Linked DNA regions of Homo sapiens. The protein of the gene in region 3 purifies or fractionates together with the protein of the main gene of each other region. This does not show direct contact. Each region holds a gene or a part of one and is shown on either strand. Other genes may lie near its edges.

Region 1 (3,500 bases), on a different chromosome or scaffold from region 3:
TGGAGGCTGAGGCAAGGAGGATTGCTTGAGGCCAAGAGTTCAAGACCAGCCTGGGCAACACGGTGAGAACCCCATCTCTATAAAAAAATTTTTTTTAATTAAAAAAAAGGGTCGGGTGCAGTGGCTTACGCCTGTAATCCCAGCACGTTGGCAGGCCAAGGCAGGTGGATCACTTGAAGATCAGGAGTTTGAGACCAGCCTGGGCAACAAGGCAAAACCTCGTCTCTACTAAAAATACAAAAATTAGCTGGGCGTGGTGGTGTGCGCCTGTAATCCCAGCTACTTAGGAGGCTGAAGCAGGAGAATTGTTTGAACCCGGGAGGCAGAGGTTGCAGTGAGCCCAGATCGTGCCACTGCACTCCAGCCTGGGCAGCAGAGCGAAACTCTGTCTCAAAACAAAAAAAACCAAAGGTGTGGTTTTGAACCTGTTAGGGTTGAATATGGAGAGTGGGGGCATAAGCCCCTTTAGAAAATTGCGGTGAATCGTGGCTCCTCTCCAGAAATACGCATAAAACTTGGTGTACAGGTTAAGGGGGTTCAGAGGCTCCTTGGAGCCTACGTGACACTCACCAGGCTGGCCCAGGGGCTTCGTGAGTGAAGGAGGGAGGGAGGAAGAGGACAATCTGGGCAGAGGACAGTCGGAAGCTCTGGAGACAGGAAAGGGGCCCTGGACACAGAATGAATACACTATGCCAGTGAGCAGATGCTCGCAAACACACAGTGCCTGCACACGCAAATGCACGCACACACATGCACACACAGGCACACAGGAGCAAATATGCATGGCAGTGAGCACGTACACACAGACACACACAGGCATATGTACACACAATGCATGGACACACATGTTCATGCATATGCACACAGATCCACACAAACACACAGATACACGCACACACATGCACACACAGGCACACAGGGCAAATACGCACTGCAGTGAGCACGTGCACACACACATAGGCATATGTACACACAACGCATGGACACACGGGCCTCCGTGTGCACACACAGATCCACATAAACACAGAGCTCCATACATGCACACAAACGCACACAGACAGGCTAAGGCAAATCCAGCAGGACACTTAATCACAGAAATGACCGTCCTCCCTGCACACAAGTCCATACCTGCAGATACAGGACTCTGTGCCCTCACACATTCACATACACACACTCATCGGCTCTGTCACATGGACATAGACAGACCAAAGCAGGCCCAGAGGGGCACACAGTCACAGTCAAACCTTCTCCCTGCAAATGCGTTCACACTTGCACACACACTGACACACCTGCACATGCACACACACACGCATGCCCTCTCGCATGGACGCATATAGGCTGAAGCTGTGATCTCTGGGCATGTCCACACACGGCCCCACAGTGCTCTCATTCATGTACATCCATGCACATGCAGGCACATGTGTACACACACACACACTTCTCACATGTACACAAACAGGTGAAGGCAGGCCCAGCAGGGTACTGTTGGCCATCTTCTCACACATATCTATACAGGCACGCACAGAGCCATCTGCCCTCACACACACACACGTGGACAACAGCCCTCACATGCCCAGCCCCCAGACTAGGCCGGGAGAGGTGGGCCTGTGATGGTCCACAATGGCCAGAGCTGTCCTTCTTTTTACCAGGGAGGAGCTAGAGAAAAAAAACAGTATTTTTCCTTCTTCTTCCTTAATTAAAATCTCTACCATTGGTGCTTGCCTGTAGTCACAGCTACTTGGGAGGCTGAGATGAGGATCGTTTCAGCTCAGGAGTTTGAGGCTGTAATGAGCTATATTCACGCCACTGCACTACAGCCTGGGCAATAGAGTGACACTTTGTCTCTTAAAAAAAATTGTTGGCCGGGCGCAGTGGCTCAAGCCTGTAATCGCAACACTTTGGGAGGCTGAGGCAGGTGGATCACCTGAGGTCGGGAGTTCGAGACCAGCCTGACCAACATGGAGAAACCCCATCTCTACTAAAAATACAAAATTAGCCAGGCATGGTGGTGCATGCCTGTAATACCAGGCAGGAGAATCGCTTAAACCCAGGAGGCAGAGATTGCGGTGAGCCAAGATCGCGCCATTGCACTCCAGCCTGGGCAACAGGAGCAAAACTCCGTCTCAAAAAAAAAAAAAAAAAAAATTTGCCATGTGGGTCCCTGCCTGGTTGCCATAATCTGGACTGTGCTTGAATCCTCTCCTTAGGAGACATGGAGCTGGTGGCCGGCTAGCCAGACCTTTTGGACAGGAGAGGACACTCATGCCATGTGGAGTTCAGGTTTAGTCCCTTGCCCCCTCCACCTGGGGATCACTAATAATTACCCCATCCCCCACCTTGAGGACCCCAGCCCCAGGACTCCTAGCATCAGCCCGAGCTCCTCCACAGGGTCCCAGCCTGGCCCTGCCACCCTCCTGCACCTCTATCCACCTTCCAGGGGTAGCAGGAGGCTCTTTCTAAAGTGCAGACCTAATGTTGCCACCACCCACTGTGGAGTCCGCAGCCCACCATGACTCCCTATAGCCCTGCAAGCGCTGCCCTTCACTTCTTATTCTGCTCACCTCTCCTGCACACTCATGCAGCCCCTCCTCCCACCTCTGATCTTAGCATATGAAGATCCCTCTGCCTGGAAAGCCCCTCCCTCTTGCTCCAGCCAACTCTTATTCATCCTTTGGGTCTCAGCCCTCAGGCCCAGGCAGGGGTTGGGCACCACCCATTAGCCACTCACAATAGCCCTGGGCTTTACTCACTCACGCAGGTGCTGGAGGAGGGCATGAGCTGGGACCAAGTTTGTGTAGGGCTCAGCCTGAGGACGCTCAGCGATGTTTGTTGAATGACTGAATGATGGAGAACAGGCAGCAGCTCCGGCCAGAGGAGCTGGGACCCGAGGTTTCCACAGATGAAGGGACCCATCCCCATGTGCTCCATCCCTGCAGCCCCTGGGGGCTTCCTTCCCTGGGGTGTGGTCATTGATAAGCTGCCCAAGAGCTGGATGAGGCTGGGCAGTGGGGTTGGTGAGGGCAGGGGCTGGGAAGAGGCGGCACTTCCCTCCTGGGCCCAACACTTCTGCCCACTCAGCACCTCCAGGCCCCCAGAGGCCTCCAGGAGGGGAGAAACAGGCCAGACCAGCTCAGCCTGGCACCGGCCACTCCCACAAAGGCCCCCCACCTACACCCACACTCCACCCCCTGCCACGAGGGGCCCAGGGGACTTTGTCTCTGTAGGGCCCAGGGCTGCGATCCGGAACAGTGATAGGGGCTAATTGCAGGAGGCAGCCAAGCGGGCCCGGGGCCAAGGGCTGTGATGAAAAGGAGAAGAAAGAAAGGACCGGGCGGGCAGGGGTGGTATGATGAGAGCCAGAGCCCCGCAGTAGGGGCGAAGTTCCAGTCCTGGCTCTGCTGCTTCCTACATCGGTGACCTTGGACAAGGCCCTGACCCTCTCTGGACCTCATTTTGTCCATCTGCAAATGGGGACAGCAGAATTTCCTCCAGCGGGGGAA
Region 2 (4,052 bases), on a different chromosome or scaffold from region 3:
ATATGTATACAGGCATGTGTAATATACACACATCATATGTGCACATATACAGGTATATGCATGCACATATGCTCACATGAAAACATGCAGAGTTAAAATGGTTTTTAAAAAAGATAGAACACCCTGAGTAAAGCAATAGGAGGCAGTTTAAAATCACAAAATGAAAAATCTGCAACAATGAGATGGCTGTCTTAGGAATGGATTAATTTTATGAGGTAGTTATTGACTTACCAAATTTATTGAACATCTATAGAGCAAAGCGCTGTGCCGGGGCCTCTTGGTGTTGGCATTCCAATTCCACTGGCATGCCAGTAATTAAAAACCTGTGTGGATGTTTCAGTGGTGCCTAGCAGAGTGACATTTAATAAGGTACTTCACAGCTTACCCCTCTATAAAATGGGGATGCTAATAAACAGTTCTACTTCATAGAGTTGTTGGGAGGATTGAATTAGATGAAAGATACAAAATGCTTAAGACAATGCGTGCTATAGAGATAACTCACAATAAATGTTGGCCATTAATGATGACGATGATGATGATGATAACATTCATTCACCATGCTAGACCGGCAGTAATTAATTAATTAAGCAAACATTTTGAGAATGTTCTAATTCTCTTCTTTTACTTTTGTTATTTATTGGCTTTCAAACTTTCCTGAAAATATTACCTTCTGAGAAATTTTTTCTCTGCTTAATGATACTCTTCATTGTTAATATTCCCTCATCCATCCATCCATCAACCATCCCTTTACCAACTCTTCTTTCATCATCCATCCATCCACCCATCCACCCATGTATCCTTCCACCCATTCTTACATCCATTCCTCCATCTATCCATCTTTTCATCTATCTTCTTCCATCATCCATACATCCATCCATCAATTCATCCACCCATTCATCCTTCCACCCATTCTTCCATCTGTCTATCAATTCTCCCATCCTTTTGCCCATCTTTCACCAGCCATCTATCTATCCACTCATCTGTCCATTCATTTATCCTTCTATTCATCCATTATTCATTGAATCCATCCTCTTATCATCCATCCATCAATCATTCATCAAATAAGTATTTAAGAAACCCACCATCCATAAGAAACTGTGTCAAGTACCAAGAGGAACCATACATGATTTCTGCCTTCAACAATCAGAGATAAATCGTTTCATCCATCCTTCAGTTTATTCATCCACTTCTCATCCATCCTTCCATCCATCCATTCTTTCACTGTTCATCCATTCTTCTATCCACCCATCCTTCCTTTCATTCTTTAATCTTCCTTCAATCCACCACCCATCCAATGAGTATTCAAGAACCCTATCATCTATAAGGAAATGTGGTGGGTACCAAGAGGAACCAGATATGATAGCTGTCTTCAAACAGCTATAGATAAGACATTGGCACCAATATCTACCACCCAACATGGAAAATAATGGCAGATACAACTGGTAGTATTAAGGCCCTGATAGGGTGCCCAAGAGGCAGCTTAGCCCACAGCCTCTGCCCTCTCGTTCTCTTAAGCCAAAATAATTTCACAGTGGAGCGGTGAGAAGATAATAGCACCCAACCAACCAGGGTTCAAATCCTACCTCTCCCATGTTTCAACTGGGTGGCCTTGGGAAGGTCATTTCACCTCTCTGAACTCCAAGTCAGTATTCCTATCTGTTTAGTGGAGATAAAACCTAAACTATAGAAGCCATTGTGAATAATTACAGGCACACATGGGGCTGTAAAGTCACTGAAGTATAGTGTACCTTCAAAATAATGAGTCCTTCTGCTTCTCAGCAGCAAATGACCCCAGATCTGAAACAAAACTTCAGTGTAAGCCTTCCCTCCACCTCTAGGCGCACACACACACCTCTTCTATTACATATTTAGGCTGCCTTTGGAGGGAGAAGCAACAGGATCTCAGTAAGCTCTTTTTGAATCTCAACTTTCTTTTTCCTAAAATAGGGAGAGTAAGCCTTACCTTGGAGAAATGGTCCAAACATTGACAGAACCATGAAGATTTTAATCCACTACCAAGAATTTAATAAGTAATTCACCCAGTCTCTTAACAGGTAACTTGTTCCCTTTTCTTCAGTTTCTTCCCTAAGCTTGGGATTCAGGCAACCTTCCTTAGCATTACATCATTCATAGAATCTGGTTTAACCCATTTCTTTGAGTTTATTAACAGAGAAAGGACCTCACCCACAAGACCACCTTCCCTACTTTCTCTGGCTGTCCCCTTCCAGAACCAATATGGCAGCCACCAGCTACTTCTGGTTCTTGAGCACTTGAAATGGGAAAGTTCAAATTGTTCTATGTTGTAAGTGTAAGATACCTATTGATTCTGAAGACAAAGTATAGGGAAAAAATGTAAAGTATCTCATTAATAATTATTTGTATTCATTATGTGTTGAAATGATAATCGTTTAGATATACATGGATTCCACAGAACATGTTATTAAAATAAATTGCACTCTTCTTAGTTTTTTAAAGTGCTTCTGCTATAAAACTTACAATGATTTATGTGGCTCGTATTATATTTCTAGTGCACCATGATGCTCTAGACCTTCCTTCTTTGCTATGGGGGCCCTAAGACCCCACTTGTCACACCCTCCCAAGTTTCCGGGTCAAAATGTACCTTTGAGAGAGTTCTTCTGGGCCCTGGCTCTCTCCACGATCTCTCTTTAAGGTTCTGCTCCCAAGAGCTCTGGATTATCTGGGGATTGGTTGAATGGCTTTGGCCCCAGCCTGTCTGTAGGACACAAAGGCAGCTTCTCAAAGGAGGGTTCTTCATCAGTGGTTACTGTCAGAAGGCAGTCTGGATGAGATCAGCTGTGGTTAATTTATGATGTCTGGAGATAAGCCCATGCATATCCACGAGGCCCATAAAATTCAGTCAAGTGTACACAGAAGGGGCCTTGCGGGGGCTGGGGTCAGGGACAAGAATATCAATGAACAGAGGAGGGAACGTTCCCAGAAATTCAGCTATGAGGAGCTGGAGAGGTTTCAGCTGAACAATGAAAAAGCCCTACTATTTTCTTTTCTTTTCTTTCTTTCTTTTTTTTTTTAGATAGAATTTTGCTCTGTTGCCCAGGCTGGAGTGCAATGGTATGATCTTGGCTTACCACAACCTCCACCTCCCGGGTTCAAGCCTTTCTCCTGCCTCAGCCTCCCAAGTAGCTGGGACCACAGACACATGCCACCACACCCAGCTAATTTTTGTATTTTTTAGGAGAGACAGGGTTTCACCAGGTTGGCCAGGCTAGTGTCAAATTCCTGGCCTCAGGTGATCTACCCACCTTGGCCTCCTAAAGTGCTGGGATTACAGGCATGAGCCACTGCACCCAGTCCACATTAACCTGCTAAGGGATTTTTGGATCTCGTATGGCTAATAATAAAGGGAAACTGATTGAAGAAATACTTGCAGAATGGGAAACTGATGACATGCAATGCAGTGAAGAGTGACATGAAACAAAGATGTTAAAGGGGAGAATGGGTGGCTCCGCAAATGTACAATGTCTTAGCACACTTGGTCTTCATAAAGTATCAATAATAATAGCAAAAAGGCAGTGTGCCAGAGACCACCCATTATGTTGTAGAATATAATCAAGATCTGTAAAAGATGTTCAAACAAGAAGGAAAGAGGTGCCAGGCACAGTGGCTCATGCCTGTAATCCCAGCACTTTGGGAGGCCGAGGCCGGTGGATCACCTGAGGTCAGGAATTCAAGACCAGCCTGGCCAACATGGTGAAACCCCATCTCTGCTGGGGTCTGCTGGCACACCCCAGCACACCCCAAAAATAAAATTTTTGTATTTTTGTAAAAATACAAAAATTAGCTGGGTCTGCTGGCACACGCCTCTGGTCCCAGCTGCTTGGGAGGCTGAGGCAGGAGAATCGCTTGAACTCAGGAGGTGGAGGTTTCAGTGAGCCAAGATCACGCTACCGCACTCCAGCCTGGGAAACAGAGTGAGACTCCATGTAAAAAAAAAAAAAAAAGAAAAGAAAGAAAAAAAAAGAAAAGAAAAAAGAAATGTTAGAAATAAGTGAAGGCAACAGTCATTTCCAAAA
Region 3 (3,500 bases):
AATTTCTTCTTATTTTTTCTACCTTAACATCCCACTATTTCCAATGGCAAAAATAGGAAACAACTGTGTTATTTAAAGTGACTTATAAATATTTTGAACAAATCCTCTGATTATAATAAGCCTTTGCTTTATTTTTTAAAAGAACATGTTCTGCATTCTTTTCTCTCCAACACAGAAGTCATATGTGAGGCATTAATGGAGGGTGGGTTTACTCTTTCAGGCCAGTAGGGCATTACCATGGCTGCTTTAAACTTACACGGTTTTTTAGACTCCTGAAACAGCTAACGTCACTCATCACACACCTGCCATACTAGCTGGGAGTGACTTAGGCACGGCGGAAAGTCTGACTCACTAAATGTAATGAATGTGACTGCCATTATTGAGTTGGAGAGCAGCCGAGGAGGAGGGATTGGTTCATGGTACGTGTTGAAAATCTGTAAAGTCAGATTTTATTGGATCAGTGTGGAATGGGAATTCCAGAGAGCAGAGCCTTCCAGAATATTTGCAGTAGAAATATATGTATGGCCCCACTGATCACTGGTAGAAAATCAGCTTTGAAAATCTCAGGGTAACAGTGACTATTGTAATCTGCATTTCTGAGACTTGAAATATTTGGATGGTTATGAGCTACATTGGAATTTACACGTATCAGAAATCTATGAGAGTAAACTTTGAAATGATCTTTATATCTGTAAGAAACATTTATAACACTTGTGTCAAGACGTATCTACAAAAATATTTATTAGAAACACATCTAAAAATTCTAAGTACCTAAGATTATTAAACAGTGCACAAAATAGGGACAGTGTAATACCTTTATATTCTATTGCATGAGTCTCATTTAATGCTAATAGCCTGCATTCAATTCAGTAGTTCAATTAGTCTGACATTTAAAATGATCATATGTAGAGGTAATAAGTGAAATGAAACCGTTATAAACTCAAAATCAAGAATTTTAATTCCAGGCCTTCCTGATGATAATGAATTAAGTAAATTATTATATTTATTGGATTTATCTGTATCACACCATTTAGCAAAAGAAAGTATCTGAGACCATTTACAAAAAAGAAAATAAATAAAATACAAATAAATAAAAACCAAATATTAATTTTCTCATACATTTGTACCTCAGCATTCTTTTAATATAGAAAAATAAAAAATGGTCAACAGAATTTTAGTGTTTGACAGGCTTTATAAGGAGAAGATATTAAAAAGAAACTGTAATTCTCCAAGTTCTGGAAACCTAATGCATTTTGATTTGAGTCTCTATGTTTTGTTGGTATTGTGCTTAGTTGTAGCCTAGAAAAATTACTGAAGTACTTCCAAACTTCCAAATATTCATTTCCAAAAGTACGGAATTGACTTTCTCACCTTTTTTTTTTTAATCTTCTTAGAACATGAAGCAATGAAACAATTTGCTTATTAATTTATTTATTGTGAAATTATGCTATGAACAGTATTTTGATCAATATAATAAGAGTGGGATGAGGTTGGCTGGACTAAATAACATTTGAGACCTGAGGAAACATCAGAGCATTCCGGTATAATTCCTTTATGTTATGCTACCAAATGAAAACACTGAACCCAGAAAGGCTGTGGGTTTTTCTGGAGCTCATAGCAGATCAATGGCAGAGTGACAACTAAACTTCAGACCTTTTGGGTACTATGTATTCTTTACCTGGCCATGTGACTTCTCACAGCATCACTGAAGTCTCAGCCCCTAGGTCCTGTCTCCCTCTCCCTCTGGTATTTCTAGGTCTCATAGTTTTAGTAATTGTGGGAGGGACGTATTCAGTAAGTGTACCATAGTCTGAGGCTGTTGTGGGGCAAAAGGGCCTCAGCATTCTTGCTTCTCATTGGCTCACAGATACAGAGTATATACCTGTATCCACGACAGGTAAATGCCTGAGAATGCTCAGTCTCCAGCCCATCAAACCTTCATTTGGTTTGGAACCCGGGTGGAGGTACTTTGGGTCTCCTCTCTTAAGCCTAGACTAAATATTGGCCTTCTGGGGAGGAGGAAACTTTGAAATAAAACAATGTTTTAATGCACATTTGTCATTGGAGAGTTACTGGTGATCAGAAACTGTAGTACATTTTAAGAAGTAAGAGTCAACTCCATGGCAGGAAACATATTCTTGCCTAAAATATTTTTATCTTAACATCACAGTATTTGACACTATTCACTTTTTCTTTTTTTATTAATTTGAGACAGGATCTGGCTGTCATCCAGACTGGAATGCAGTGGCATGATCACAGCTCACTGCAGCCTTGACCTCTCGGGCTCAAGCTGCATTCTGACCTCAGCCTCCTGAGTAGCTGGGACTATGGGCACATGCCAATGTGCAAGGCTAATTTTTAAAAAAATTTTCGTAGCGTTGGGGTCTGCCCAGGCTGATCTCCAACTTCTAGGCTCAAGTGATCCATTTGCCTAAGGCTCCCAAGGTGCTGGGATTACAGACATGAGCCACCATACCCAGCCCACTGTTTTCATTTATAAGAAGTACTAATGCTAGTAGTAATATATGGATATCAGAAGGCATCTTGGAGAAGAAAAACAATTAGTGAGTTAGTTTACTTCTGCAGGAAATGCTTTTTTCATTGTTGAGGGTCCCAAATCTCTTTGAAAGTTGTGGGACCTTTCCCTAACTACAGCCAGTTTCAGAGCATTTCCAGACTTTCTTCTTGTCTTTATATATCCAGTCATGGCATGAGCATTAAAGTACACAGCCCTTGTGCCGAAAGAGAGAACTCAATTATGGTTATAGAGAGAAATCTCTCAGCTCCTAAATGAACTGTCTCTAAACATGGGAGAGACTTCCCATTCGAAGGTACTTGGCTACAAGTGTGGAGTATCTGTGGAATGTATTGTGTCAGTGAGCCTAACATTCTTTGCTGTGATGACCCTCATACCTTTCTGTTCATTGGAGGTCACAGCTGCAGGAGGCTTTGACTCTCCCCACCATCAAAATGCCACAGTAGCTTTTCTGAGCAGTAGGAATACGCTAGGTTGTGGAGATAATATGGAAGGAGAAAGGCTGTAGGAAGGAGAGGGAATTATTGAGGGGACCAAAGATTGATCACAGGGTAGGTCAGATACCAGCCTGGAAGGAATGTGTGTGGAACCCTTGAGGCTTGGCCAAGTCATTAGAACTGGAGCCTCTGGTTCAGCCAATTTCATGTTGTCTGTCTCCTGTGAAGGCTTTTGCATAGTGGGCTGTATTTTCTCTATTCCTGCAACCCTCCCAACTACTTAGAATCAAGGCTGTCTTCTCTGGGTGAATTCTGCATTTTAAACTCTCAGTCTTTAATGAAAGAGACAACCTGTATTGATAAGACAATTAAAGATTTAGGATTATGCAATTTTTTTTTCCTTATTGCAAAGCTTTAACTGTTTATTAAAAAAGTAATAATCCATACATAAGCCCATCATGCAGTGAGATCCATTGTACTGTTTGGTGAAAGTTCTTTTAGACCTTTTAAAGCCAGTAAATATGTGT
Region 4 (3,500 bases), on a different chromosome or scaffold from region 3:
CCTTGAAACTCACCGATTCCTGAAATGACATATAGGTTCTCACCCAGGACTGATTCTGTGTCCATGGTTCCAAAGGAGCCAGAGATTGATTAAGGACCCTACAAGTAAAGGGTTAACCTCAGGTGACCTTCTCCCATGCCAGAAGGTTGTGCTGTAGACACTGACCATGACTGAATTCGGGGACCAGGGGCAGGGAGGGGGGCTGGGAATTGGCATGCATTCCCACACCACCTTCTAGATTGGGAAAGCAGGTCTGAATAGACACCACAGGGCCCTGGCAACTTGCGGTGGGACCCAGGGGCTGTACATGGCTGTTGTATCAGGCTCTAAGTCCTGGGTGAGATGCTATGCTTCCTGGAGTCAAGAATTTCAAACTTAAAAATTTGAGAGAATATTAATAGTACAAAAATCCCAGCAACTCTATTCAAAGCTCAGTAACGCAAAAGGATCCGATCCCAGACTAGAAACTGTTATTACACTCTAAGGAAGGAAACCTTGTATATATCAGCAAGTTCTGTGCCCCAAGGGACTAAGAGAGGCTACCTGCAGTCCTCACCTGACTGCCTTCCAATCCTTCCTGCCTGCTCCCCCTGGGCCTGGGCATCCTGGCCACCACCCAACTCCAGACTTGCTTTGATCCTTGAAAGGATCAAATAGATGCCAAGTAATTTCACTGCATCCCAGAACAAATCCCAGAAACAAGGAATTCCAAAAACCTACTCAACAAAGTAAAATTCACAATGTCCAGCATCCAATCAAATAACTAAAAGGTGAAAAATATTAATGAAATCAGAGGAATTAAGAGTATATTAGAACAGTATGTGTTTACCTCAAAAGAAGTCATTAAGGGAGGAAATGAGAAACAAAAAAGACATAAGACATAGAAAACTAATAGCAAGGCCGGGTGGGGTGGCTCACGCCTATAATCCCAGCACTTGGGAGGCCAAGGTGGCAGATCACCTGAGGTCAGGAGAATTGCTTGAACCCAAGAGGTGGAGGTTGCAGTGAGCCAAGATTGCGCCACTGCACTCCAGCCTGGGTGACAAGAGCCAAACTCTGTCAAAAGAAAAAAAAAAAAAGGACATGTAAATCCAACCATATTAATAATTACACTAAATGCGAATAGTTTAAACACTCCAATTAAAAGGTGGAGATTGTCAAACTGAATTCAAAAAGCAAGCTACAGAAACCCACTTTACATACAAAGATAGGTTAAAAGTGATAGGATAGAAAAAGATAAACCCTGCAAATACTAATTTAAAAAAAAAAAGCTCAAGTGCCTATAGTAATAGCAAAGTAGATTTCAGAGAGAGGACTATCAGAGACAAAGAGAATATTACATAATGATAAAACAGTTAATTCATTAAGAACTCATAGCAATCCTAAATATAAATGTATCTACTAAAAGAGCTTCAAAATACATAATGCAAAAACTGACAGAACAATTAAAAAACACCATCATTCAACTTGACTTAACTGATATTTACATAACACTCTAACCAACAAAGGCATAATACATATTTTTTCAAGGGCATGTGGAACATTTACCAAGATAAACCACACTCTGGGAAATAAAATAAATCTTGGTAGACTTGAAAGACTTTAAATCACACAAAGTTCATTCTTTGATGACAATAGAATTAAATCAGAAATCCATAATAGAAAGTTATCTGGAAAATGCCCTAAATATTAGGAAATGAAACAACACATTCTGAAATAACATATGGCTGAAGAATACATCACTAGGGAAATTAGAAGCTATTTTGAGCTGAATAAAAGTGAAAATGTGACATAACAAAAGTTGTAGGATATAGTTGAGGCAGTGCTTAGAAATTTACAACGCTGAATGCTATATGAGGAAAAAAGGTATCAAATCAATATCTATGTTTCAATCTTAAGACACTAAAGTAAGTAAAGTAAGTTTCAATCTTAAGACACCAAGGAGATAATAAGGATCAGAAATCTCTGAAATGGAAAACAGAAAATAGAGAAAAATCAATAAAACAAAAAAATTGTTTTTTGAAAAGATCAATAAAATTGACAAACATATATTTACTATATGGCTCAGCAATTTCACACCTAGGTATTTATGCAAGAGAAATTAAAATGCACAGCCATACGTGTACTCAAATATTTATAGCGGGTTTATTTGTAATAGCAAAAGCCTATGAGTAACCTAAATGTCCATCGGCTGGTGAATGGATAAGCAAACTGCGGAGCAGTTTGCTCCATCCAATGGAGCAATGGGATGAAATGTATACCCCTCACCTCAAATTCTTATGTCTCAATGCTTGGTAACTCCGAGAGAGGTTTTTTTTTTTTTTTTTTTTTTTTGAGACATGGTCTCACTCTGTCACCCAGGCTGGAGTACAGTGGTGCAATCTCAGCTCACTGCAACCTCTGCCTCCTGGGTTCAAGAGATTCTCCTGCCTCAGCCTCCTGAGTAGCTAGGACTACAGGCGAGAACTAACGCCCAGCTAAATTTTTGTATTTTTAGTAGAGACAGGGTTTCACCATGTTGGCCGGCTGGTCTTGAACTCCTGACCTCAAGTGTTCCACCCACCTCAGCCTCCCAAAATGCTGGGGTTACAGGCGTGAGCCACTGCACCCGGCCTGGAGAGAGGTTCTTTAAAGAAGTAATTCAGTTAAAATGAATTCAATGCAGTGGGCCTTGATCCAATATAACTGGTGTCCTCATAAGAAGAGGAAATTTGGACACAGACATAGAAGAGGTAAGACCATGTGAAGATGCGGGGAAAAGGTGGCCATCTACAAGCCAAGGAGAAGCCTCAGAAGAAATCAACCCTGCTGACACCTTGATTTCAGATTTCTTGCCTCTGGAACTGTGAGGAAATACATTTCTGTCATTTAAGCCCTCCTGCCATACTTTGTATGGCAACCCTAGCAGACTAATACAAATGGAATATTACTCACCAATAAAAAGGAACAAACTACTGATTCACACAACAATATGGATAAACTCAAAAGCATATGCTAAGCGAAATAAAGCAGAGACAAAAGACCACATAATATAAATTCCATATGAAATCCTTAAAGAGGAAAATCTACAGCAAAACTATAGTGGTTACCAAGGGGAGAGGGGAGACCACTGAATGCACAGGGGCATGAGGACATTTTTGGGTCATGGAAACGTCCCATATCATGATTGTGGTGCTGGTTACACAACTGTATACGTTTGCTCAACCTCATCAAATTGTATACTTAAAATTGTACAACTGTGCTGTATATAAATTACACCTCAATAAAACCTTACCCCCCAAAACACTGGATTTCAGATGAGGAGGTAGAGATGAGGACAAATGCTGAGAACACACCCCTAACTGAGGCATGCAGGCATGAAGGATGACGATAGCCGAGGGAAGGAGAAAATGGGCTGAAACAAGGCTCCAAGCCAGGTGTGGGGGCACACACGTTGGTCCCAACTACTTAGGAGGCCGAGGTGGGGGATTTGCTTGAGCCCAGGAGTTGAAGGCTGCAGT

What was found. Proteins that work in one complex are often made in the same cells at the same time.
Region 1: the proteins of FBN2 (region 3) and EMID1 purify together in Homo sapiens (co-immunoprecipitation; one large-scale study listed by IntAct). This does not show direct contact.
Region 2: the proteins of FBN2 (region 3) and ELSPBP1 purify together in Homo sapiens (co-immunoprecipitation; one large-scale study listed by IntAct). This does not show direct contact.
Region 4: the proteins of FBN2 (region 3) and ZNF74 purify together in Homo sapiens (co-immunoprecipitation; one large-scale study listed by IntAct). This does not show direct contact.

Annotation. Positions count from the first base shown.
Region 1 is NC_000022.11:29,208,896-29,212,395, reverse strand, and holds part of EMID1 (EMI domain-containing protein 1 isoform 1 precursor), read right to left. Parts: intron 1-3,500.
Region 2 is NC_000019.10:47,993,380-47,997,431, reverse strand, and holds the start of ELSPBP1 (epididymal sperm-binding protein 1 precursor), read right to left. Parts: upstream 2,801-4,052; 5' UTR 2,621-2,800; intron 1-2,620.
Region 3 is NC_000005.10:128,531,746-128,535,245, reverse strand, and holds part of FBN2 (fibrillin-2 precursor), read left to right. Parts: intron 1-3,500.
Region 4 is NC_000022.11:20,397,151-20,400,650, reverse strand, and holds part of ZNF74 (zinc finger protein 74), read right to left. Parts: intron 1,057-3,500; exon of another isoform or gene 961-1,056; intron 20-960; coding exon 1-19. UniProt on the Homo sapiens protein: May play a role in RNA metabolism.